Homo sapiens: one gene and its partners. The protein of the gene in region 3 purifies or fractionates together with the protein of the main gene of each other region. This does not show direct contact. Each region holds a gene or a part of one and is shown on either strand. Other genes may lie near its edges.

Region 1 (3,500 bases), on a different chromosome or scaffold from region 3:
TCCAGATAAGCAATATTAAGATAACTGCAGCTCACTCACTGCCAGACCCTAAGTGATCCCCACTCTCCTGTTCCACAAGCCATAACTATAGCTTTGATTGGACAAGAGACTGATTTCAGTAACTTTCTCCTGATAAGAGCACTGAGCATGAACTGGTTCTGGCCAGTTTACAGAGGCTGTGCACTTCAGTGCCTTCATGTCCCTGCTTCGCCATCTGACTACAGGGCCTCATTGTAATCCTTTTAGATGTTAAGTCTCCACCCACAAGTGAATATGGATAAGTATGTAACATACATGTTTATTCAGCCTGCATGTGCATGACCTCCCCCACTTTGTGAATATTCATAGCTCCTCCTATAACCTGTTAAATATATAAACTTGGCCAACCCGTTCAGCATAAATCCCTGTTCTATCCTCCCTTGAAGGTCTGTTTCTGTGCTCTGCGGGAGGATGCTTCCCAGCTATCAGGATTGCCACCTTGTAGGCTGTGACTCTTTACAAAATTATTTTTGAGGCAGAGTGTGGTTCCGTCACTCAGGCTGGAATGCTGTGGCACAAACACGGCTTACTGTAGCCTCTATCTCCCAGGCTCAAGAGATCTTCCTACTTGAAGGAAGTCTTTTTTTTTTTTTTTTTCTTTTTTTGAGGCAGAGTCTCACTCTGTCACCCAGGCTGGAGTGCAGTGGCACTATCTCAGCTCACTGCAACCTCTACCTCCTGGGTTCAAGCAATTCTTGTGCCTCAGCCTCTTGAGTAGCTGGGATTACAGGTGCCACCACCATGCCTGGCTAATTTTATTTATTTATTTATGATATGGAGTCTCTGTCACCCAGCCTGGAGTGCAGTGGCACAATCTCGGCTCACGATAACCTCTGCTTCCCGGGTTCAAGTGATTCTCCTGCCTCAGCCTCCCAGTAGCTGGGATTATAGGTGCCTGCCACCATGCCCGGCTAATGTTTTTGAATTTTTAGTAGAGGCAGGGTTTTACCATGTTGGCCAGGCTAGTCTCAAACTCCTGACCTCAAGTGATCCTCCTGCCTTGGCCTCCCAAAGTGCTGGGATTACAGGTGTGAGTCAATGCGTCTGGCCATTTTTGTATGGACGGGTTATTTCCGTGTTACCCAGACTGGTCTTGAACTCTCCTGGCCTCAAGTAATCCTCCTGCCTCAGCTTCCCAAAGTGCTAGAATTAGAGGTGTGAGCCACCATGCCTGGCCTGGCTGCGCAATCTAAATTCTTCCTTATCCTGGGTATGGCTTAAGCTCCCCTCTTGGCTAGAATATTTTTGGAACCAAGTCTGGGGTTGACTGGGACTTTTTTTTTTTTTTCTTTTACACGGAGTCTCGCTCTGTCACCGAGGCTGGAATGCAGTGGAGCGATCCTGGCTCACTGCAACCTCCGCCTTCCAGATTCCAGTGATTATCCTGCCTCAGCCTCCCAAGTAGCTGGGATTACAGGCGCCTGCCACCATGCCTGGCTAATTTTTGTATTTTTAGTAGAGATGGGGTTTTGCCATGTTGGCCAAGCTGGTCTTGAACTCCTGACCTCAGGTGATCCGCCCCTGCCTCGGCCTCGCAAAGTGCTGGGATTACAGGCATGAGCCACCGTGCCCAGCCAGACTGGGACTTACACAACAGAGATTTTAGAACCTTCCCATTTAGTTGGCTCCTTTTAGGCCAAATGGGAGGTGGGGAGATAATGGGGATAGAAGTATCCTTCATCTACTGCCTCTCTAGATGAGTTTACCTGCTGTTTTCTACTGGTGTCTTGCCCTCAACTCTATGGCTTACCCTTTATGCAGGAGATAAAAAACTTTAGTCCTTCCCACTTGGGAATAGTGGTTGGGCAGAAGGTGGGAACCAATCACCAATCTTGTATGTAAGTTCAGAATGCAGTTATCTTGGAGTCTGTAGTCTTCTGACCTTTGTCATTGCCCTCCAGTGAAAGACCTCCAAGAGCACACCTGTAGTTGGACAAATTGGGCTTATTGCATATTTCAGTGAGTTCCATGGGGAACTGTGGGGTGTTTCAGTAACTTTTCAAATGGGATTTGGGCTTCTACTAGGTAGTTTGGGAAGGGTTTAAGGAAGTGAGGCTTTGATCTGTATGGGGTGCTGTTAGGAAGCTGGAAAAATTCTGTAACTGGATAGCTTAAGAAATCTTTTCTAGAAGGAAAGAAGACTGGAATAAAGCTAAAGCTGTAACTGGTAAAGAAGCAACAGTCATTCCTGTTAGCCAGGATAGAGAGTTGGTCATTTCTGTGATTTGGACAATGTTCATGTTTTTTTTTTTGCTTGTGTTCAGGAGTGATTACAGAGTGGTCTTGTTTAGTCTTTATCCATCATGGTCTTGTCTGATATTGATGTTCTCTGAAATTGTTGATGTTCAGCAGAAGAGTCAGTCATCAAGGCCTAGGTGTGTGCCTTGCTCTGAGTTGTTAGCCAGTTTACAGCAACACCAAGGCCCAGCTGTGATATTACCAGGCCAGCTCCCAGATGTCAGGGGCTGCATTTCTTTTTCTCACGTGGTTGTAAAGTCTTCTAGTGGAATGATGTATTAGAAACAAATCCAATAGCCAACATAAGTTGAAGTGATTTTCTAACATAGAAGAGCAAAAAGGAATGGGATAGAGGTATAGAGGTTTCATTTGTATTTGACTTTTCTAAACTGGGTTAAATCAGCTTCCCCTCTGCGGTAGGCAGCATAATGGCCCCTGAAGTTGGTAATCCATGTGGTAATCCCTGGAGCCTGTGGTGTGTTACTTTACATGGGTAAAGGGATTTTGCAGATGTGAGTATGTTAAAGGAGAATTACCCTGAATTATCCAGGTGGGCTCTATGTGGTCACAGGGTCCTTATAGGAGAGGCAGGAGGGTCAGAGTCAGAGGAGATGTGATGACAGAGGCAGAGTTGGAGTGATGCCCTTTGAGGAAGGAGGAGGGACCATGAGCCAAGGAGTGTGGGCGGCCTCCAGAAGCTAGAAACGTCAAGGAAATGAATTCTTTCCTAGAGTCTCCAGAAGGAAGCAACCTTGCTCACGCCTTGATTTTAGCCCAGTGAAACTCAATAAATTTGTGTTGTTTTAAGTCACAAAGTTTGTGTAATTTGGTTACAGCAGCCATAGGAGATTCCTACTCCTTCATCAGGAGGCTTTGACTTTCACTGCTGTCCCTGTATATCTTACCACTCCATAGTTGTGTACTTGAGGTTAAAGGAAACTGGGACATTCTAATTACATTTGAGATAATTTTTCATGTCTTCCTATTCTGTCCTCCTTTTTTTTTTCTGAGATGGAGTCTTGCTCTGTTGCCCAGGCTGGAGTGCAGTGACATGATCTTGGCTCACTGCAGCCTCCGCCTCCCGAGTTCAAGCAATTCTCCTGCCTCAGCCTCCCAAGTAGCTGGGATTACAGGTGTGCACCACCACACCTGGCTAATTTTTGTATTTTCAGTAGAGACAGGTTTCACCTGTTGGCCAGGGTGGTCTTGAACTCCAGACCTCA
Region 2 (3,007 bases), on a different chromosome or scaffold from region 3:
GATATTTTCCAGACCCTGCACTCCATGGATCGGCTGGCATCACCCAGATCCATAAACTGGTTCATCTGATCTTGTGGCCCCCAACCAGAAATTGACTCAGTGCAAGAGGACAGCTTCGACTCTGTGATTTCATCTCCAACCCAACCAATCAGCACTTCTGACTCACTGACCCCCCCATCCCCTACCCCCTACCCACTAAGTAATCCTTAAAAACCCCATCCCTGAATTTTCAGGGAGACTGATTTGAGTAATAATAAAACTCCAGTCTCCCATACAGTTGGCTCTGTGTGAATTAAGCTCTTTATTGCAATTCCTCTGTCTTGATAAATCAGCTCTGTCTAGGCAGCAGGCAAGGAAAACTCATTGGGCGGTTACTAATTCTCAAAAAATGCTGCCAAGAGCCTTTCTAGAAAACATGGCTTATATTATTTGGTTGCTTTTAGTCTATAGAAGAAAAATGGCCTTGACACTTTAAGAAGCTAGATTACTTATTTTGTTTTATTTTATTTTTATTTATTATTATTTTTTGAGACAGAGTCTTGCTCTGTCACCCAGGCTGGAGTGCAGTGGCATGATCTCGGCTCACTGCAACCTCCACCTCCCGGATTCAAGCGATTCTCCTGCCCCAGTCTCCCTAGTAGCTGGGACTACAGGTGTACTCCACCACGCCCGGCTAGTTTTTGTATTTTAGTAGAGACAGGGCTTCACCATGTTGGCCAGGCTGGTCTCGAACTCTTGACCTCAGGCGATCTGCCCATCTTGGCCTCCCAAAGTGCTAGAATTATAGGCATGAGCCACCATGCCCAGCCAAGAAACTAGATTATAAAATGGAAGGAGAAACAGTGATTAAGTGAAGAATTAGTAAAGAAAAAATATTAGGAGAGTGACTTGAATTGCAAGACAGTAAAACAGTGCAGTATTAGAATAGGAATGAATACATTGGAACAAAATAGCCTAGAAACAAATCCAAGCATATCAAATACTTTCAAAGTTTGAATACTGGAGTCAGATGTCCAAGTCTTTATCTGAACACCACCACTGCCTGTGTGACTTTGTGCAAGTTATTCATCCATTCTGTGTCTCAGTCCCCACACTGAGGGATGCTGTAATAACATGGGAATGATAGCAATACTACCCACCTCTAGGTAGTGGGAGAAGTCAGTGAGTTAGTACAGGTTGAAACAGTGCCTGGCACAGAATAAGCAATAAGCAAATGTTAGCTATTGTTAATTATTATTGTTTTTGTTGTTTTGATACTGTTTCAGATCATTGGGGAAATGATAAATTTTTCATAACCAGTGCTGAGAAAATTGGCTAACCATTTAGAATCAAATAATTTTGATCACTAGAGCTTACACCATATATCAAAATAAAATCCAGATGGATTACAGACTTAAATTGAAACCTAAAAGGATTAGGAAATGTTAGTGAATATTTACCTAATATTAAAGGGGGTAAGAAATTTCTAAGCATATTCGTTAACACAGAAACCTTAAGAGAATGAGAGATTTAACCACTTTAAAAAGCATGCACTTCTTATACCAAAAACTACCATAAGCAAGATTAAAAGGCAAATGGCAAGCTGGATAAAATATCTAGAATAATGGGCAAGAAGTTAACATACAGAGAGTGTTACAGATTAATAAAGACATACCTCAATAGCGAAATGAGAAAATTCTACGAAAAGGTAAATCACATGAAAAACATGATTACAGATGATCAATAAAACTTTGAGCAAATGCTCTCTTACAAGTAATAAAAATGCAAATTAAGGCATTAAGATGCCATCTTTGTGCATGACTCAGAAACATTTTTTTAAATGCCATCTTGGTGGACTAATTAACTAGATTTGTTTTGTTTTGTTTTGTTTTTAAGAGAAAATACAATTCTGGAGATGAACGGGGGAGCTGGTACTTTACTGCACTGGCATTTCATCCGATCTACCCAGTATTCCTTCCAACTTCTGACATCAAGTTTTTTTCTGTGTATTTTTTCCTCTACACTTTAACCCTCTGTATATTTTAATCACTGATTGATGAATATGTTGAACTGAAGATGACTGTGGACAGAAATCCATATCATGCATATTCTTGGGTTTGATTTCAACTCATCAATAATTGTTAATGAGTTGATATCAACTGTGCATAGCCATTCAGCTTGTTTCTAAGCCCACATACAGCTCTCATGTCCCCACATTGTCCACAAGGACATTATTGTTATTATGCGTGCCATATTTCCCTGACCAATTACTGACTCTGTGCAAGAAGAAATGGAAAGCAATCTGACCTAATCTGCTCTTAAAGCTCCTGACTCCCGGGAACTGCTGTTTTTTCTACCAGGGATACACAAGCCATCACTTGAAGACCTTGCTTTGCCTTGACTTCAAGTTACCATCATCTACACTTCTGGTGGTTCTTCCTTTGTACAAAGTTCCTTGTTCTTTGCTCATCTCTAGTCCTCTTACATCTCTCCATTTTCTTCAAGGTTTATTGAAGATCATTTGCAATGGTTTATCCATCTCATGTGAAAATTGTATGAACCTGCCAGAATACGCTACATCCATGTTGGAAGACTTGAACCTATGTAGGGTAGCAAGCTCTTTTCTTTCTTCTAACTATCCCCTCACAAACGAAGAGGACAAAAGCTAAGTAGGAGTTAAGGAAGCTGACTTTCACTTGACCATCCACCAGCAGGATCTACCTGGGCACAACTATTCCTTACTCTAGACATAGTATTGGAAAATGATCTTTATTTATTCTGCATAGCACAATTTGGGTTTGGCTCCAGGAATGATTCTTGCTGGTAGATCAGTTCCTGGTTATATGTCTTTTTGTCTACTTTGCATATATACTCTAAAAATCTGAGTCAATCTAATCAAGAGTGCTCACAAGTGTTGCCACACAAGCTTCTTTAGAGACTTTCCTCATTAATTCCTTAATAAGAAAATTTACAACTGGCAAATTTGAATTGTATTTTTTATAGCCTCACCATCCTTTGGTTACCCTAC
Region 3 (3,170 bases):
CTGCTTCATAAATATCTAGAATTAACTTTTATTTCTTATTTTACAATACGGAAGTAGTAAATTTTCTCTACCTAATTCTTAAAATGGTTTTTTGTTTGTTTGTATTTTTGAGAGACAGGGTCTTACTCTGTTACCCAGGCTGGAGTGCAGTAGTACCATCGTGGCTCACTGCAGCCTTGACTTCCCTGGCTCAAGTGAGCCTCCCATCTCAGCCTCCTGAGTAGCTGGGACTACAGGTGTGTGCCACCTTGCTTGGCTTTTTTTTTTTTTTTTTTTTTTTTTTCAGCGATGGGGTCTCACTATGTTGCCTGGGCTGATCTTGAACTCCTGAGCTCAAGCAATCCTCCCACCTCGGCCTCCCAAAATGTTGGAATTACAGGTGTGAGCCACCATGCCTGGCCTCTCAAAATATTTTAAGGATCAAATATATTATTAACTAACCAGTTTTTGGAAACTGCTCATCACTTAAAGAAATGTAAAATATTATATGATTAAGGTCTAACAAGTTTCAACAATTAGCAAATTATATCATAGATGATAGTGATTCCAATGAGCAAAGAGGAAAAATTTATAATCCAAATGCTGACCTAAAATATCTGTGCCAAGCCATCTAAACTCAGCTAAATAGCACTGCAGTTTCAGTACTAAAACCACCAGGGAAGTAGGAGGAATAAAATCAAGCATGGTTTTTAGAAATAGCTGCTGAGTCTTCAGTTATTTAAGGAAGCAAAATATTGGGAAACTGTGTAAAGAAAACGTGTCAGACTTCTCCCATCAGCCAGCTAAGGCTTTGGATGTACTTGAAAGAATATTATGCTTACAGACATGAAATAGGTTTGATTCAGGACTTTGCAGTATTCCTATAGTTGATTTATAACATCTCCTGCTAAGCAAAGCCCACTGACTAATTAGTCACCACTACACAAGGAAAAACAGCATTATTTTTAGAGGCTGAATTAATGTTAGTTTTCTCATTTTCTCATCTTCATTCTCTCTGCTGTTGAAGAAATGTTCAGTGGCCAACTGATTCTGCTTCTTCTCTTGCAGGTTTCCTATCCTGGGAGCAGGAGAGTGTGCCTATTTGAATGACAAAGGTGCCAGTAGTGCCAGGCACTACACAGAGAGGAAGTGGATTTGTTCCAAATCAGATATACATGTCTAGATGTTACAGCAAAGCCCCAACTAATCTTTAGAAGCATATTGGAACTGATAACTCCATTTTAAAATGAGCAAAGAATTTATTTCTTATACCAACAGGTATATGAAAATATGCTCAATATCACTAATAACTGGGAAAATACAAATCAAAATCATAGTAAAATATTACCTGTTTTCATGGTGCTAATATTACCTGTTCTCCCACTGCTAATGACATACCCGAGACTGAGTAATTTATAAATAAAAGAGATTTAATTGACTCATAGTTCCACATGGCTGGGGAGGTCTTGCAATCATGACAGAAGGCAAATGGGAAGCAAAGTCATGTCTTATGTGGTGGCAGGCAGGGGGACTTGTGCACAGGAACTCCTATTTATACAACCATCAGATATCTTGAGACAAGAACAGTATGGGGCTCCCTGGTGTGATTCCGTCCTGCGCGGCTGTTCTCTGGAGCAGCATTCATTTATCTTCGTCTGCCTTGTCTCCTACCTAAGTGTGTGTCGCCACCCGATGGAAGATTCGATGGACATGGACATGAGCCCCCTGAGGCCCCAGAACTATCTTTTCAGTTGTGAACTAAAGGCCGACAAAGATGATCACTTTAAGGTGGATAATGATGAAAATGAGACCAGTTATCTTTAAGAACGGTCAGCTCAGGGGCTGGTGCAAAGGATGAACTGCACATTGTTGAAGCAGAGGCCATGAATGACGAAGGCAGTCCAATTAAAGTAACACTGGCAACTTTGAAAATGTCTGTACAGCCAACGGTTTCTCTTGGGGGCTTTGAAATAACACCACCAGTGGACTTAAGGTTGAAGTGTGGTTCAGGGCCAGTGCATATTAGTGGACAGCACTTAGTAGCTGTGAAGGAAGGTGCAGAGTCAGAAGATGAAGAAGAGGAGGATGTGAAACTCTTAAGTATATCTGGAAAGCAGTCTGCCCCTGGAGGTGGGCAGAAAAAAGTAAAACTTGCTGCTGCTGCTGATGATGATGATGATGAAGATGATGATGATGATGATGACGAGGAAGCTGAAGAAAAAGCGCCAGTGAAGAAATCTATACGAGATACTCCAGCCAAAAATGCACAAAAGTCAAATCAGAATGGAAAAGACTCAAAACCATCATCAACACCAAGATCAAAAGGACAAGAATCCTTCAAAAAACAGGAAAAATCTCCTAAAACACCAAAAGGATCTAGTTCTGTAGAAGACATTAAAGCAAAAATGCAAGCAAGTATAGAAAAACGTGGTTCTCTTCCCAAAGTGGAAACCAAGTTCATCAATTATGTGAAGAATTTCTTCTGGATGACTGACCAAGAGGCTATTCAAGATCTCTGGCAGTGGAGGAAGTCTCTTTAAGAAAATAGTTTAAACAATTTGTTAAAAATTTTCCATCTTATTTCATTTCTGTAACAGTTGATATCTGGCTGTCCTTTTTATAGTGCAGAGTGAGAACTTTCCCTACCATGTTTGATAAATGTTGTCCAGGTTCTATTGCCAAGAATGTGTTGTCCAAAATGCCTGTTTAGTTTTTAAAGATGGAACTCCACCCTTTGCTTGGTTTTAAGTATGTATGGGATGCTATGATAGGACATAGTAGTAGCAGTGGTCAGACATGGAAATGGTGGGGAGACAAAAGTATACACGTGAAATAAAACTCAGTATTTTAATAAAGTAAAAAAAAAAAAAAAGGTATGGGGAAAACTGCCCCCATAAAGCAATTGTCTCCACCTGGCCCTGCCCTTTGCATGTGGAGATTATTACAATTCAAGGTGAAATTTGGGTGGAGACACAACCAAACCATATCAGATGGCTATATCAAAAAGACAAGAAATAACAAGCATTGGTGAGAGTGTGGAGAAGACGGAACCCTTGTACACAGTTGGTGGGAACACAGTTTGGTGCAGCCATTATAGAAAACGTCATGGAGGTTCCTAAAGAAATTAAAAAGAGAACTACCATATGAGCCAGCAATCCCTTTTCCAGATATACACCCAAAGGAAATGAAAT
Region 4 (4,188 bases), on a different chromosome or scaffold from region 3:
AATCATGTATTTCTTTAACTCCTAAGACAAGTACTGTTAACATTTCATTTTGGGGGATATTACCCCACCATTCAGGAAGCAGATGGAATACAGAAAGCTCAAAAAAATCTAACTGGTCTTCTGGCTTCCTCTGTCTGCTTCCAACCCATTCTCCACAAAAAAAGTAAAGGTTCTCTTAAAACAGAAATTGGATTATATTGCTCCCCTGCCTAAAACTGTTCTATGGCTATCCACTTCAAACAAGCATCAACATCACCTAGAAACTTCTCAGGAATGCAAAATCCCACCCTGCCCCAGACCACTGAATCTAAAACTCTAGGGATGGGGCCCAGCACCTCTGTTTTAAGAAGTCATCCAGGTGATTCTGACGCAAGCTAAAGTTTGAGAACCATTGTGTTAAGCTAACTGCTTTCTATGTATGATGTTATTTAAACCTGGCAATTCTTATGTATTGTTGCCAGCAGAGTGCAGTGGTTAAGAGCAGAATCTGGAGCTAGGCTGAGTTTCAATTCCACCTCTCCTAGCTTTGTGATATTAGGTCTTATTTCTTTATCTGCGACAGGGATAGTAATAGCGCCTATAGCCAGCACGGTGGCTCACTGCCCATAATCCCAGCACTTTGGGAGGCCAAGGCGGGCGGATCACTTGAGGTCAGAAGTTCAAGACCAGCCTGGCCAACATGGTGAAACCCCGTCTCTACTAAAAATATAAAAATTAGCTGGGTGTGGTGGCGCACGACCGTAGTCCCAGCTACTCAGGAGGCTGAGGCAGGAGAATCGCTTGAACCCAGAAGGCGGAGGTTGCAGCGAGCCGAGATGGTGCCACTGCACTCCAGCCTGGGCGACAGAGCGAGACTCCGTCTCAATTAAAAAAAAAACAATAATAATGATAATAGCGCCTACCTCATGGGGTTGTTGTGGAATTAAACATCATCAGTAAGGTGCTTAGAACAGTGACAGAACCTGGATTTTAATCTCCCTTGGCCTCCAATAGCTGTGCATGCCCCAGGACTAGGTAACGGCCTTGCCCAGGACGGGTATGGGGCGGGTGGTGTGTGCCCTGTGTCCAAGGGTTGCAGCCCCTCTGACCCTGGCGTGCCCTGTGATCTGGTCCAAGGTGCTAGGCCTCTGACTGGAGTCGGGCTTGCCATCGGCGGTGCTGGGGAGCGGGCTGCTCTCGTGCAGGCAGCCCCACCAGCCAGCCGGGCTGCGAAGCTGCCTAGCACGGTCTGAGCATTCGCCTTACTCGCTGGCTGCTTACACCCCGACGCCGCTGCCGCCACCGCCGCCGCCGCCGCCGCCGCCCTAAGCACCGCCCGTCGCCCTCTCACCCCGCGGCAGCGGCGGCGGCGGCGGCGGCGGAAGCGGGGGGGCGGGCCAGGCCGGGGCGGGGCCGCAAGCGGCATGGAGGAGGCGGAGGCCGCGGCGAGCCGGGCCGAGCAGTGAGGGCCCTAGCGGGGCCCGAGCGGGGCCCGGGGCCCCTAAGCCGTGAGTGCCTCCGCGTGGGTGTCCGGAACGGGTAGCGCTGCCGGTGCAGGTCTCCTGAGCCCTCGGGCGGCTCCGGGCCCTGGGAGGAGGAGAGAAGCTGGGGCAGATAGGATGGGACGAGGGTTGAAGACTGGGGCAGGAGAGGTCGCTCTTTGCTCACCACAGGCTTGGGAAGGCCTGGAACTTGGTCCTTGTAGGGGCTAACGAACTTTGAGCCGATTATTTGGCCTCCACCCTTGGACAGCCTTGATTCAGAGAGTTACTCCAGTCTCAGGGAATTTCCAGGTGATCCAACCCCACTGAAGGGTTTCCTGCCAGCCCAGAGAAGTTGAGCCACTTTCCCCATGTCACACAGTATGGGTGCTTGCAGGGAAGAGTTGCTGGGAGGTCCTCCCTCATCTCCCCAGAAGGCATCAGACTTTGGGAGGAGCATCTTACCCCATGTGGCCCTCTGGTCCCTTCAGATTCCTGAAGTCATGGGCTGGCCAGGACATTGGTGACCCGCCAATCCGGTATGGACGACTGGAAGCCCAGCCCCCTCATCAAGCCCTTTGGGGCTCGGAAGAAGCGGAGCTGGTACCTTACCTGGAAGTATAAACTGACAAACCAGCGGGCCCTGCGGAGATTCTGTCAGGTATAGAGATGTCCCAAACCCTCCCCACCGAGCGCTCCCTCCCAGCTTCCTCCCCACCTAAATCAGGCACTGGGACCCCTGTTGGCCAGCCCCAGTGGGAAAGGGGCAGCAGGTTCCTAGAGGGGAGACCTCTATGTGTCATGTCCCTATAGGTAATGATTTGAACCCAAAGTTCTGGAATCGGAACCCAAGTACAACTTCTAAGCTTCTGACGGAAGCCTGAAGTCTGATCAGGCTGGCTTTGCAGAGAGGCACACCCCTGTGAGGCAGTTAGGGCCAGGACCCAGGTCTGATCCCCCGCTTGGGTCCCTGGGCCTGGCTCCATCTCTAGAAACCAACAATGGAGGGGACCAAGGAAATCAAGGTCTCAAATAGAAGAATACAGGAGCACTGGGTAGGGAGGGCCCTAATGGAGGGGGAAGTGTCAGGGGAGGTTCCCTGGGGAAAGTGGCTGTGAAACTAGGCCCTGGTCAGGGGAGTAGAGCTAGGCAGACAGAGGAAGGGACAGGACCCAGTTTCTCTGGATGTCTTCACTGCAGCCAGGGCCCTCCTTTCAGAAAGACCCTCTAGGATCTGAAGGAGGTGCTCCTCTTAATCATCCCTACCCCTCCCCTCAGACAGGGGCCGTGCTTTTCCTGCTGGTGACTGTCATTGTCAATATCAAGTTGATCCTGGACACTCGGCGAGCCATCAGTGAAGCCAATGAAGACCCAGAGCCAGAGCAAGACTATGGTAGGGCTAGGCTAAGGATGGGGTAGGGGGCCTTGGATCTCACAGCTGGAGTGGCAGGCAGACCCTAAGCGGTGAGACTCTGCTGAGGAGACTATCTCCATGACCTGTTGTACCCCACAGATGAGGCCCTAGGCCGCCTGGAGCCCCCACGGCGCAGAGGCAGTGGTCCCCGGCGGGTCCTGGACGTAGAGGTGTATTCAAGTCGCAGCAAAGTATATGTGGCAGTGGATGGCACCACGGTCAGTGGGCCAGGGTCTGGTGTACAGTCACTCTATTCTGCTCAGGGCATGGTCCACTGGCAGCAGGGTCTACTGCCTAAGTGGGAACTGCAACTCTGCCAGTTTCTAGCTGTGTGACTTTGGAGTCCTCGATTCCTTATCTATAGACTGGGACTAATGATTTCTACTTGTCAGGATTCAATGAAAAGTTTGTGAAGTGTCTTGTATGTAGTGGGATCTCAAAAGTAATCATTCATAATAGTAGGCAGTCAATTCATTGATTTATTTTATAACCATCCCCTGGTCCTTTCTTTGGCCTCAGCCTTGTGCTGGGCACTGGGGACCTGAAAGTAATCAGACCTGGCCCTACCTTGAGGGGTTCAGTGTGGTGGAGGATTGTGATACTTCCAGGATGAAGCAGAGACAGCAGAGGCTCTAAGAGCCATGAAAGTCATGGAGGGGAGGGTTGTAGAAAGACGTGATCTCTTCTGATGGGAGTGCTATAGAGGCTTTCTGGAAGAGGTGGCCTTCGAGCTGAGTTGGAAAAGAACTGTGTGAACAGAAACATAGGCAGGAGGTGATGTTTCAAGCAGCTGGTGTTTTAAGTACCCCTAAGACAGAGACACCTTGAATGCCAGAGTGAAAAGCTGGACTTTGTCTCTGCCACTGTGTAGGTGCTGGAGGATGAGGCCCGGGAGCAGGGCCGGGGCATCCATGTCATTGTCCTCAACCAGGCCACGGTGAGTTTCTAGGGGTGGGTGACCCAGAGGGCTGGAGCTGGGCTCTTGCTGATGACACCAACTCACCAGAAGTATATCCCCTGCCAGGGCCACGTGATGGCAAAACGTGTGTTTGACACGTACTCACCTCATGAGGATGAGGCCATGGTGCTATTCCTCAACATGGTAGCGCCCGGCCGAGTGCTCATCTGCACTGTCAAGGTCAGTTATTCTGTCCTGACCCTGACCCCTACTCCCTAGCTCCAACCCTGCTTCTAGCCCCGGCTTCTCTGCCCCTCATATAACATAGTGGGAAGATTCTCTGAAGGAAGGTTACTCAGGTTCCAATCTCAGCCTTAACATTTGTATTAATTCAGCAAATAGTTATTGAGCAACAG
Region 5 (3,018 bases), on a different chromosome or scaffold from region 3:
CAGGCTGTATGCAGACTGGGGGTGGTAGAGGAGTGGGCCTGCTTCCCTAATTTAGAACCTTACGCCCTTCCTTCAGGAGAAGAAGCCCAGAATCCCCAGCGTTCCATCCCGATGGGCATTGTGATCTCACTGTCTGTCTGCTTTTTGGCGTATTTTGCTGTCTCTTCTGCACTCACCCTGATGATGCCTTACTACCAGCTTCAGCCTGAGAGCCCTTTGCCTGAGGCATTTCTCTACATTGGATGGGCTCCTGCCCGCTATGTTGTGGCTGTTGGCTCCCTCTGTGCTCTTTCTACCAGGTCAGTATCAAATGTTTGTTTTCTTCTGCTGTCAGAGTCTCAGGTTATAGCATTCAGTACCAGAGAATACCCCTTAAAAGGGCTGTGAGGGGAAAGTGGAGACTCTTTAAACATACAGTCTTGGGAAGAGAGATCCCAGTCAACTCATGCCACCCTGGGCATTCTCCTCTCCAGCCTCCTGGGCTCCATGTTCCCCATGCCTCGGGTGATCTACGCGATGGCAGAGGATGGCCTCCTGTTCCGTGTACTTGCTCGGATCCACACCGGCACACGCACCCCAATCATAGCCACCGTGGTCTCTGGCATTATTGCAGGTAACAGACCCTCTTTCCCCTTCCCTTAGTTGTTTCGCCAACTTCTTTAACTTTGCCACTCCCTTCTCTCATTTCTTGTTTCCTGCCTATTAATTTTAGCATTCATGGCATTCCTCTTCAAACTCACTGATCTTGTGGACCTCATGTCAATTGGGACCCTGCTTGCTTACTCCCTGGTGTCGATTTGTGTTCTCATCCTCAGGTGAGACTCTTCCTCTGCATACTGTGATTTGGATTTTTATTCTTGGATGAGGAATGATGGAGATCTGCTCCTCTTTCCTCCTTCGCCTTCATTATTCCAACTTTCTTTGAGGAATCTGGGTATCTCACCCTGCCAAAAAGAACTTCCCTTAATGGTGATGAGGAAGGTTAAGCTGCCTGGGAGAAGATGATAAAGTGAGTAAAGGTTGTTCTTAATACTGCCATCTTACTTTTGCCTCAGGTATCAACCTGATCAGGAGACAAAGACTGGGGAAGAAGTGGAGTTGCAGGAGGAGGCAATAACTACTGAATCAGAGAAGTTGACCCTATGGGGACTATTTTTCCCACTCAACTCCATCCCCACTCCACTCTCTGGCCAAATTGTCTATGTTTGTTCCTCATTGCTTGGTGAGCAGTGGAATTTTTCTGGGGTGGCTCTGAGATCAGCGTGATTGGGTCGAAGTGTGTGGCATTTGGTGGCTGAGGAAGAACTAGAGAGAGAGCGACTCTCCTTGGAACAGGGTTTCTAATGTCTTAGCATGTTGGTCTTAAGAGTTGGTTTTGATGTCTCTCAACTTGACCTTTGAAGCTGTCCTGCTGACTGCTCTTTGCCTGGTGCTGGCCCAGTGGTCAGTTCCATTGCTTTCTGGAGACCTGCTGTGGACTGCAGTGGTTGTGCTGCTCCTGCTGCTCATTATTGGGATCATTGTGGTCATCTGGAGACAGCCACAGAGTTCCACTCCCCTTCACTTTAAGGTAAATGAACTCTGTCTTTTTTCCTTGCCAGCCCATCTTGGGAGAATAGGCTCCAGATATCTTGAGGTCTAATAAAGTTCATAGATATTCTTTAATTGAACATGAAAGGGAAGATATAGGAGGTACCTAGGCCAAAGACTTCTTCTCTGACCCTCTTTAGTTCCTTTCCAGTTCCATTTACCCAAACTGCATATTCTTGGAGTCTCATGAGGTATGCTAAATGAGCAGCTACTGAAATGCAGAGGACAAGTAAGAGTTGGACTCACCCTTTTCTGGCCTGCATAGGATAGGGATCTCTTTCTAGGTCAACCTGTGGTATGTACAAAGAAGATTTTACTTTGTTTTCAGGTGCCTGCTTTGCCTCTCCTCCCACTAATGAGCATCTTTGTGAATATTTACCTTATGATGCAGATGACAGCTGGTACCTGGGCCCGATTTGGGGTCTGGATGCTGATTGGTAGGTATCCACTTGGGAAGAGTAGGCTTCTTTGGTGTCCTAGCCCAGCTCCTTTCCCTCTTGGTCTCAAGTAGGAAACCTATGAAGCCTTTACACCCCCACCTCACAGCTACCTTTCCCCACTAGGCTTTGCTATCTACTTCGGCTATGGGATCCAGCACAGCCTGGAAGAGATTAAGAGTAACCAACCCTCACGCAAGTCTAGAGCCAAAACTGTAGACCTTGATCCCGGCACTCTCTATGTCCACTCAGTTTGACATCGTCACACCTAAATGCTGTCTGGTCCCCTGCACAATAATGGAGAGTACTCCTGACCCCAGTGACAGCTAGCCCTCCCCTGTGATGGTGGTGGTGGATACTAATACAGTTCTGTACGATGTGAAGGATGTGTCTTTGCTATTTCTTGTCTATTTTAACCCGTCTGCTTCTAAATGATGTCTAGCTGCTTACCAACTTTAAAAAATGATATTAAAAGAAAGTAGAAAAATAAACTGTGTCCTGTTTTTTGCTTGCTAAAGATGTAGAGCCTGACTTTTAAGAGTGAAGAGCCTCAGAGAAGTGTCCTTTGTGTTTTCTTCAGTTACCACAAAAGCATCTGCTGTGCCTGTGGGTGCTTCTTGTTGAATCAGGGTTTGAGGAGGGTGGTGTAAGTAGGTAGCCATCCAGTCCAGTCACACTTAAAGGAATGGTCTTGAGATATGTTTTCCCCTCATTACACTTAAGGTTAGGTTCTGGATAAGTAGACAGCAACACTTGTCTCTGGGATTTGGGGTGGACTCTGATAGCAACACTGACATTGGTTAGGGCCTACACTGAAACTATTGGCTTCTGTTCCACCTCTTCTAGTTGGACCAGTCCCACACTCCTGTAACTGCCTGAGCATCAGAAATTTTGGCTGCGGTGTTTGGCACTGCTGGGAGGAGGGGTGGATAGTCAGGGGGTTTGGTAAGGGACCACATATATTAATATATGGATACTGTTTGCTGCAGAA
Region 6 (4,191 bases), on a different chromosome or scaffold from region 3:
TCCCGAGATGGAGTCTCACTCTGTCGCCCAGGCTGGAGTGCAATGGCACGATCTCGGCTCACTGCAACCTCCACCTCCCGGATTGAAGCAATTCTCCTGCCTCAGCCCCCCGAGTAGCTGGGGTTACAAGCATGCGCCACCACACCCGGCTAATTTTTTGTATCTTTAGTAGAGATGGGGTTTCACCATGTTGGCCAGGCTGGTCTGGAACTCCTGACTTCGTGTTCCACCTGCTTCGGCCTCTCAAAGTGCTGGGATTACAGGTGTGAGCCACCATGCCTGGCCAGTAATTTTTTGTATTTTACTTTTGTATTTTTTTTTTTTTTGAGATGGAGTCTCGCTCTGTCATCTAGGCTGGGTGCAATGGCGTGATCTTGGCTCACTGCAAGCTCTGCCTCCCGGGTTCACGCCATTCTCCTGCCTCAGCCTCCCAAGTAGCTGGGACTACAGGTGCCCGCCACCACACCCAGCTAATTTTTTATATTTTTAGTAGAGATGGGGTTTCACCGTGTTAGCCAGGATGGTCTCGATCTCCTGACCTCATGATCCACCTGCCTCAGCTTCCCAAAGTGCTGGGATTACAGGTGTGAGCCACCATCCCCAGCTCTTATTTAATCTTTAAAACAACATTGTTATAAAGTACTGTTATTCCCATTTTACAGTTGAGGAAACTGAGGCTTAGGGAGATTGAGCCATTTTCCCAAATTGTCTCACATAATAAGTTACAAAACTGGATTTCAAACCCAGATCTACCTGATCCCAAAGCCTGTGCCCTTAATTTGTTTTTTTTTTTTTTTTTTTTTTTTTTTGAGACAGAGTTTCGCTCTTGTCGCTCAGGCTGGAGTGCAGTGGCACAATCTCGGCTCACTGCAACCTTCGCCTCCCGGGTTCAAGCGATTCTTCTGCCTCAGCCTCCCGAGTAGCTAGGATTACAGGTGACTGCCACCATGCCTGGGTAATTTTTTGTATTTTTAATAGAGACGGGGCTTCGCCATGTTGGGCAGGCTGGTCTCGAACTCCTAACCTCAGGTGATCCGCCCACCTCGGCCTCCTAAAGTGCTGGGATTATAGGCGTGAGCCAACATGCCCGGCCTTTTTTTTTTTTTTTTGAGATGGAGTTTTGCTGTTATCACTGAGGCTGGAGTGAAATGGTGCGATCTCAGCTCACTCCAACCTCCTCCTTCCAGGTTCAAGCGATTCTCCTGCCTCAGCCTCCCAAGTAGCTGAGATTACAGGCATGTGCCACTACACCCAGCAAATTTTTGTATTTTTTTAGTAGAGATGGGGTTTCACCATATTGGCCAGGCTGGTCTGGAACTCCAGACCTCAGGTAATTCACCTGCCTCAGCCTCCCAAAGTGTTATTATAGGTGTGAGCCACCATGCCCGGCCCTGTGCCCTTAATTTATAGTCTCCCACAGCCTGAGCTCTGGAGTTGAGGTGGGTGATGGACATGGACCAGAAGAACAGGGCAGGTGAGTGTTAGCATGAAGTTGACAGGCAAGAAAGAGGGAGTTTAGGCATTGGTTGGGAAGGGCCACAGGAGACGCAGGCAGTGGCCCAGGAGAAGCTGTCTGCCCTGGCTGGAGCAGGCAAATGGTGCCTGCCCCTTTTCCTTGTGCTGCATCTCTCCCCTGCAGGCTGGTACAGAAGGCAGAGCTGGTACGACTGTCCCAGACACTGAGCCTGGTGCCCCGGCTGCATTGGCTGCTGGTGGAGGATGCTGAGGGTCCCACCCCGCTGGTCTCAGGGCTGCTGGCTGCCTCTGGCCTCCTCTTCACACACCTGGTGGTCCTCACGCCCAAAGCCCAGCGGCTTCGGGAGGGCGAGCCTGGCTGGGTTCATCCCCGTGGTGTCGAGCAGCGGAACAAGGCCCTGGACTGGCTCCGGGGCAGAGGGGGTGCTGTGGGTGGGGAGAAGGACCCACCACCACCAGGGACCCAAGGAGTCGTCTACTTTGCTGACGATGACAACACCTACAGCCGGGAGCTGTTTGAGGAGGTGAGCACCAGGATGGGGATGGGCAAGAGACCAGGTGCGGCCAGCTTCATTCGTTACCTTGGTTAGCAGTGTTGCCGTTGGCTGCTGGGTGAGGGGCTGGAAGCAGTGGGGCAGAGTGAGCCAGGTGGCTCTTTCTGCTGCTCCCTTCCCCGGACCACCCCTCTGTTTCTTCTCTCCCGACCTCCGTTAGATGCGCTGGACCCGTGGTGTCTCAGTGTGGCCTGTGGGGCTGGTGGGCGGCCTGCGATTCGAGGGCCCTCAGGTACAGGACGGCCGGGTAGTGGGCTTCCACACAGCATGGGAGCCCAGCAGGCCCTTCCCTGTGGATATGGCTGGATTTGCCGTGGCCCTGCCCTTGCTGTTAGATAAGCCCAATGCCCAATTTGATTCCACCGCTCCCCGGGGCCACCTGGAGAGCAGTCTTCTGAGCCACCTTGTGGATCCCAAGGACCTGGAGCCACGGGCTGCCAACTGCACTCGGGTAAGGGAATGGAGATGGGCATAGAAACCTGGCTCTTGGATGGACAGGTGATGGGGGAGGTACAGTGAGACCCTGGGAATGGGTGGTTTAACCAGGAGGGACTCTCCAGATCTCTGATCAGCCTTGCTGACTCTACTGAAGGGGAAGCTGGGAACTAGCGGGGGAAAGTGGTCTCCTGCCACTCTGCCCCGAGTTCTGGGAACCCATGTGGCACAGAGAGGATGAAGGAATAAGGCCCTGTTTGTTGTTTTTTTTTTTTTTTCAGACAGAGTCTCGCTGTGTCACCCAGGCTGGAGTGCAGTAGCGCAATCTTGGCTTAGCGCAAGCTCCGCCTCCCGGGTTCACACCATTCTCCTGCCTCAGCCTCCCAAGTAGCTGGGACTACAGGCACCCGCTACCACGCCCGGCTAATTTTTTTGTGTTTTTAGTAGTGACGGGGTTTCACGGTGTTAGCCAGGATGGTCTCAATCTCCTGACCTCGTGATCCGCCTTCCTCGGCCTCCCAAAGTGCTGGGGTTACAGGCGTGAGCCACGCGCCCGGCCAAGGCCCGGTTTTAGAGGCACTAAGTCTTCCTCCACCCTGCCCTTTACACTTTGAAGCCTATACTGTATATGTCGATAGGGTTAGAGAATCCATTCCAGGCTCGGGGACCCAGAGGCCTGGCTGCAGCTGGGCCTGGCTCTCACTGCATCCCTCCTGGCACAGGTACTGGTGTGGCATACTCGGACAGAGAAGCCCAAGATGAAGCAGGAGGAGCAGCTGCAGCGGCAGGGCCGGGGCTCAGACCCAGCAATTGAGGTGTGATGGCGGCCCCACCCCAACTACCACCTCTTTTCAGGCACAGACCTTGTGGGACTGGGCCCCAGGCCTGCCCAGGATGTGGTTTTCCAAGTCCTGACCCTTGGAGCCAGAAGTGGCCCCTCTGCCCCTCCAGGCCCAGGGCATGGTCCTGCTGCTTCACCCCTCCCCTAGCCTGCCGTGTGGCACTGCCCACAGGCTGGGGACAAGCAGCCCTTGTGTTGAGTCAGGTTGGCCCTGTCTAGGGTGGAACAGAAGGACAGATGGACCCAGGAGGGAGGGCAGCTGAGTAACTGGGTAACTTATTGGGGCTGGGCATGCACTGGGGGGCTGGAGGAGCTGGGCTGGACCCTTCCCACCTGAGCATGCTGACCCCCTTCCTACCTCCAGAATAAAGAATCTCAACCTGGAGGGGCCTCTTGTTTTCCTTTGCTTCTTACATTGGGTTCTTGCTTTCTGATCCTTACAGATGTGGGCTCCTGTTGCTGCACAGGTCGAGCCAGGGTCCAAACTTTGGAGTCCTAGCTGCTCCATCAGACAGAAATCAGTTCTCCCAGGCCCCCATCCCCTTGACAAGAAAAAGCAATTGCTTCCATCCAAAAACTTTATTGAGTCTATATCAGAATCAGCCTCCAGGCCTTCTCATGTCACTTTCCCATCACTCTGTTCTTTGCTGTTCCCTGGTGGTTCTGACTACAAGGGCTAGGCCCTAGGACATCTGGTTTTCTTTCTTACCCCAGTCCAGCTCGCTGACTATCCTTAGCCCCTCTAATCCTACGATCCCCCCAACCTGGAGCCTTGGTAAGGAGTTGTGAGGTTTTCAGACTTGTCCATCCCTCCCTCTTCCTCACCCCAAGCTCCAGGCCTCTAGGCCTCAGATAGATCCTCCTTGGGAGGTGCTTCTCCTGGTG
Region 7 (3,343 bases), on a different chromosome or scaffold from region 3:
CCGGAGAAGCAGGGATAGGGGCCCGTGGGAGGAAGAGAACAGACCCCGCCTGAGAAGCTGCCGCTCCCACCTTGGTGTTTTTTAAAGTATAGGATTATTGTATACATGCTCTCCTAATAACTTAGGTAATGCGGGCAGAGGGCAAATCTCTTTCGAGCTGCACTTACTTTTTCAGAGCTTCCCACTCTGTTTAGTATGTTGGGTTCTGCTCTTTTTTTGAGACAGGGTCACGCTCTGTCACCCAGGCTGGAGTACAGTGGCATAATCTCTGCTCACTGCAACCTCTGCCTCCCGGGTTCAAGCAATTCTCCTGCCTCAGCCTCCTGAGTAGCTGGGATTACAGATGTGCACCAGCATGCCTGGCTAATTATTAGATTTTTTGTAGAAACAGGGTTTCACCATGTTGGCCAGGCTGGCCTGGAACTCCTAGCATCATGTGATCTGCCCACCTAGCATTCCAAAGTGCTGGGATTACAGTTGTGAGCCATTGTGCCCAGCTGGGTTCTGCTTTTTTGCATTTTTACATACATATTATATATGCAGACTCACAGAACTAATATGGCATTGTGGAGGTTTTTCCTAAAACAAATGGTATTGTGACATAGCCATCATTCTCAGAGTTGCTTATTAACAGAACATTATGGAGATATATTTTTCTTCCATGCCTGAAGGTCTCCCTCATTCATTGTAATTGATACAGAGAATTCTGTAGTTTGAGCATGGTTGATTTAGCCACCCACCTCTTGAGGGTAGAATTAATTAAGACTGGTTCCAGTCTGTTGCTTGAAAATAAAACACTACCCTGAAATGCCTAGAGGCAGGGTTGCTGGGTCTAAGCCCCCAGACCTTTCTTATTCACTTGACCTGCCCTCCTAGCTACCTGGTGTTCAATGTCATCCCCACGCTGGCCGACATCATCATTGGCATCATCTACTTCAGCATGTTCTTCAACGCCTGGTTTGGCCTCATTGTGTTCCTGTGCATGAGTCTTTACCTCAGTGAGTGCTGCTGGGAGACACCGTCTCCCTGAACTATCCAGGGACTCCCTTGGCCATGAGCTGTGCCCCCACTCAAGTGACCCACCTATGGGAGGCTGTGGATTGGTGGACTTGAATGGGCTCCTAGTGCTCGTCATGTGATGGGCGGGTCTCTTCTGTCAAATCAAACCTTAACCTAGCTGAGGGGCTGGGGAAGGACATTCTTGTCACGTTAAGTCTGAGCCGTGGACACAGGTCAAGGAAGCCTCGTTTGTGTAACAAGATGCAGCTTGCTTTCATTTACCAAAAGCGTTTTCTACACATGAGACTTTGTGCAGGCTGCAGAGGTGCCTCCCTGTGGAATCTGGGTGTCCGGGCTTGAGCATAGGCTTAGTGTGTACATGGCAGGTAGTGGACATTGACATTTGGTCTCTGCTTTTGGGGATGATGTCCTATTCTGCTCCCCATCCTGTCACTCTCCAGCCCTGACCATTGTGGTCACTGAGTGGAGAACCAAGTTTCGTCGTGCTATGAACACACAGGAGAACGCTACCCGGGCACGAGCAGTGGACTCTCTGCTAAACTTCGAGACGGTAACAGAGGGCCCGGTGGCAGTGGTGTGAGGCGTGGAGATGTGGAGGAGTGTAACCAGGACCACTGGGGCTGACAGAGAGCTGGGGGTGTGATGTTTGTGTGTGATGTTTGAACTCAGGAAGGAGGATTGAGAGTTGGGGGGAATGACCCGAGTGCCATGTGCTGTGCCCATGCCAAATAAATTTGGTTTGAATTCATCAGGTGAAGTATTACAACGCCGAGAGTTACGAAGTGGAACGCTATCGAGAGGCCATCATCAAATATCAGGTGAGGATGCTAGTTTGAGGCCTCCGGAGAATAATGCCCTGGCCTGGTAGAATTTTCAGGGCCAAGAGTGATAGTCGAGTGTTGGGGTAGAAGGGGCCTGGGCCCAGGTTTGGACTCACTGATGGCCATTGTGTATAGGACATTCCTCTTCCTGTGTTATTGCCCTCAGGGTTTGGAGTGGAAGTCGAGCGCTTCACTGGTTTTACTAAATCAGACCCAGAACCTGGTGATTGGGCTCGGGCTCCTCGCCGGCTCCCTGCTTTGCGCATACTTTGTCACTGAGCAGAAGCTACAGGTGAGGCAGGATCTTGGATGAGAGAGTGGGGCACAAGGAAAAGGGGGCCTGAGGCCTGTGTCTGGTCACCAGGCTCTTCGGTAGGAAGTGGGCAGGGTGACACAAGAAGAGCGGCCTGCAGGCCCCCCGTGACATGCTCTGCTTCCTTGATTGCCACAGGTTGGGGACTATGTGCTCTTTGGCACCTACATTATCCAGCTGTACATGCCCCTCAATTGGTTTGGCACCTACTACAGGTAATCTGAGCCCTGGCCCTCACCTGTCCAGGGCACATTATTATTTCCTGGCTACTCAGAGAAGTCCTAACCAGCACCTTTTTGCAGGATGATCCAGACCAACTTCATTGACATGGAGAACATGTTTGACTTGCTGAAAGAGGAGACAGAAGTGAGCGAAGGGAGAGGAGTAGGGTTTGGGGAGGGAGGAGCTGTGTGGTGTTTCTCGTGCTTGGAAAACACAAAGCTGAGAACCTCAGCACACATGGGTGGTGCCCTTCCAGGTGAAGGACCTTCCTGGAGCAGGGCCCCTTCGCTTTCAGAAGGGCCGTATTGAGTTTGAGAACGTGCACTTCAGCTATGCCGATGGGTGAGGCCTTCCTTTTGCTTCCTTTGCTTTTCCGTTCATTTGCACACTGCCTTCCTGCTTCTCAGTGCTCTGAATCCCTGCTTTTGGAAAAGAGCCTGGGCAGGGGAGGGGCAGGGCCTACTAGCAGCTCTGGTGATGGAAGGTGCCTGCTGAGCAACCCCACCTTTCCTTGCAGGCGGGAGACTCTGCAGGACGTGTCTTTCACTGTGATGCCTGGACAGACACTTGCCCTGGTGAGAGGAGACCCAGCCACTTGGCCCAGATGCCTCAAGCTTCCCTCATTCAGTGCCCATGGTAGCTTGTGACCCAGGCTGTGGAGTCAGAGAGCCCAGTCACGATAGGCAACCGGATTGAATGGTGCAGCCTCCATGGACACTGGTGACCTCTTGGAGAGGGAACCTCAAAAGCCAGTGGGCCTCGGCCGGCTGCGGTGGCACATGCCTGTAATCCCAGCACTTTGGGAGGCTTAGGTGGCCAGATCACCTAAGGTTAGGAGTTCAAGACCAGCCTGACCAACATGGTGAAACCCTATCTCTACTAAAAATACAAAAATTAGCCGGGCATGGTGGCGGGTGCCTATAATCCCACTACTAGGGAGGCTGAGGCAAGAGAATCGCTTGAACCT

The links.
Region 1: the proteins of CLEC2D (region 3) and LMBR1 purify together in Homo sapiens (affinity purification with mass spectrometry; 2 studies listed by BioGRID and IntAct, with this or other methods). This does not show direct contact.
Region 2: the proteins of CLEC2D (region 3) and SUSD1 purify together in Homo sapiens (affinity purification with mass spectrometry; 2 studies listed by BioGRID and IntAct, with this or other methods). This does not show direct contact.
Region 4: the proteins of CLEC2D (region 3) and POMGNT1 purify together in Homo sapiens (affinity purification with mass spectrometry; 2 studies listed by BioGRID and IntAct, with this or other methods). This does not show direct contact.
Region 5: the proteins of CLEC2D (region 3) and SLC7A3 purify together in Homo sapiens (affinity purification with mass spectrometry; 2 studies listed by BioGRID and IntAct, with this or other methods). This does not show direct contact.
Region 6: the proteins of CLEC2D (region 3) and B3GAT3 purify together in Homo sapiens (co-immunoprecipitation; 2 studies listed by BioGRID and IntAct, with this or other methods). This does not show direct contact.
Region 7: the proteins of CLEC2D (region 3) and ABCB6 purify together in Homo sapiens (affinity purification with mass spectrometry; 2 studies listed by BioGRID and IntAct, with this or other methods). This does not show direct contact.

Annotation. Positions count from the first base shown.
Region 1 is NC_000007.14:156,883,184-156,886,683, reverse strand, and holds part of LMBR1 (limb region 1 protein homolog), read left to right. Parts: intron 1-3,500. UniProt on the Homo sapiens protein: Putative membrane receptor.
Region 2 is NC_000009.12:112,043,291-112,046,297, forward strand, and holds part of SUSD1 (sushi domain-containing protein 1 isoform 2 precursor), read right to left. Parts: intron 1-3,007.
Region 3 is NC_000012.12:9,693,713-9,696,882, forward strand, and holds part of CLEC2D (C-type lectin domain family 2 member D), read left to right. Parts: intron 1-1,047; coding exon 1,048-1,162; 3' UTR 1,163-3,170. UniProt on the Homo sapiens protein: Receptor for KLRB1 that protects target cells against natural killer cell-mediated lysis. Inhibits osteoclast formation. Inhibits bone resorption. Modulates the release of interferon-gamma. Binds high molecular weight sulfated glycosaminoglycans.
Region 4 is NC_000001.11:46,195,635-46,199,822, reverse strand, and holds the start of POMGNT1 (protein O-linked-mannose beta-1,2-N-acetylglucosaminyltransferase 1), read left to right. Parts: upstream 1-1,388; 5' UTR 1,389-1,487; exon of another isoform or gene 1,488-1,772; intron 1,773-1,951; 5' UTR 1,952-2,001; coding exon 2,002-2,121; intron 2,122-2,273; exon of another isoform or gene 2,274-2,461; coding exon of another isoform or gene 2,462-2,515; intron 2,516-2,738; coding exon 2,739-2,853; intron 2,854-2,973; coding exon 2,974-3,092; intron 3,093-3,333; exon of another isoform or gene 3,334-3,522; coding exon of another isoform or gene 3,523-3,621; intron 3,622-3,745; coding exon 3,746-3,811; intron 3,812-3,898; coding exon 3,899-4,012; intron 4,013-4,188. Other genes in the region: TSPAN1 (tetraspanin-1), read right to left, coding at 3,523-3,621. UniProt on the Homo sapiens protein: Participates in O-mannosyl glycosylation by catalyzing the addition of N-acetylglucosamine to O-linked mannose on glycoproteins.
Region 5 is NC_000023.11:70,925,079-70,928,096, reverse strand, and holds the end of SLC7A3 (cationic amino acid transporter 3), read left to right. Parts: intron 1-76; coding exon 77-299; intron 300-473; coding exon 474-613; intron 614-712; coding exon 713-815; intron 816-1,055; coding exon 1,056-1,222; intron 1,223-1,403; coding exon 1,404-1,570; intron 1,571-1,918; coding exon 1,919-2,027; intron 2,028-2,153; coding exon 2,154-2,284; 3' UTR 2,285-2,518; downstream 2,519-3,018. UniProt on the Homo sapiens protein: Uniporter that mediates the uptake of cationic L-amino acids such as L-arginine, L-lysine and L-ornithine. The transport is sodium ions- and pH-independent, moderately trans-stimulated and is mediated by passive diffusion.
Region 6 is NC_000011.10:62,614,796-62,618,986, reverse strand, and holds the end of B3GAT3 (galactosylgalactosylxylosylprotein 3-beta-glucuronosyltransferase 3), read left to right. Parts: intron 1-1,639; coding exon 1,640-2,000; intron 2,001-2,190; coding exon 2,191-2,481; intron 2,482-2,746; coding exon of another isoform or gene 2,747-2,801; exon of another isoform or gene 2,802-3,187; coding exon 3,188-3,286; 3' UTR 3,287-3,691; downstream 3,692-4,191. Other genes in the region: ROM1 (rod outer segment membrane protein 1), read right to left, coding at 4,148-4,191. UniProt on the Homo sapiens protein: Glycosaminoglycans biosynthesis. Involved in forming the linkage tetrasaccharide present in heparan sulfate and chondroitin sulfate.
Region 7 is NC_000002.12:219,212,616-219,215,958, reverse strand, and holds part of ABCB6 (ATP-binding cassette sub-family B member 6), read left to right. Parts: intron 1-876; coding exon 877-998; intron 999-1,460; coding exon 1,461-1,570; intron 1,571-1,772; coding exon 1,773-1,838; intron 1,839-2,007; coding exon 2,008-2,133; intron 2,134-2,292; coding exon 2,293-2,369; intron 2,370-2,456; coding exon 2,457-2,520; intron 2,521-2,632; coding exon 2,633-2,718; intron 2,719-2,893; coding exon 2,894-2,951; intron 2,952-3,343. UniProt on the Homo sapiens protein: ATP-dependent transporter that catalyzes the transport of a broad-spectrum of porphyrins from the cytoplasm to the extracellular space through the plasma membrane or into the vesicle lumen.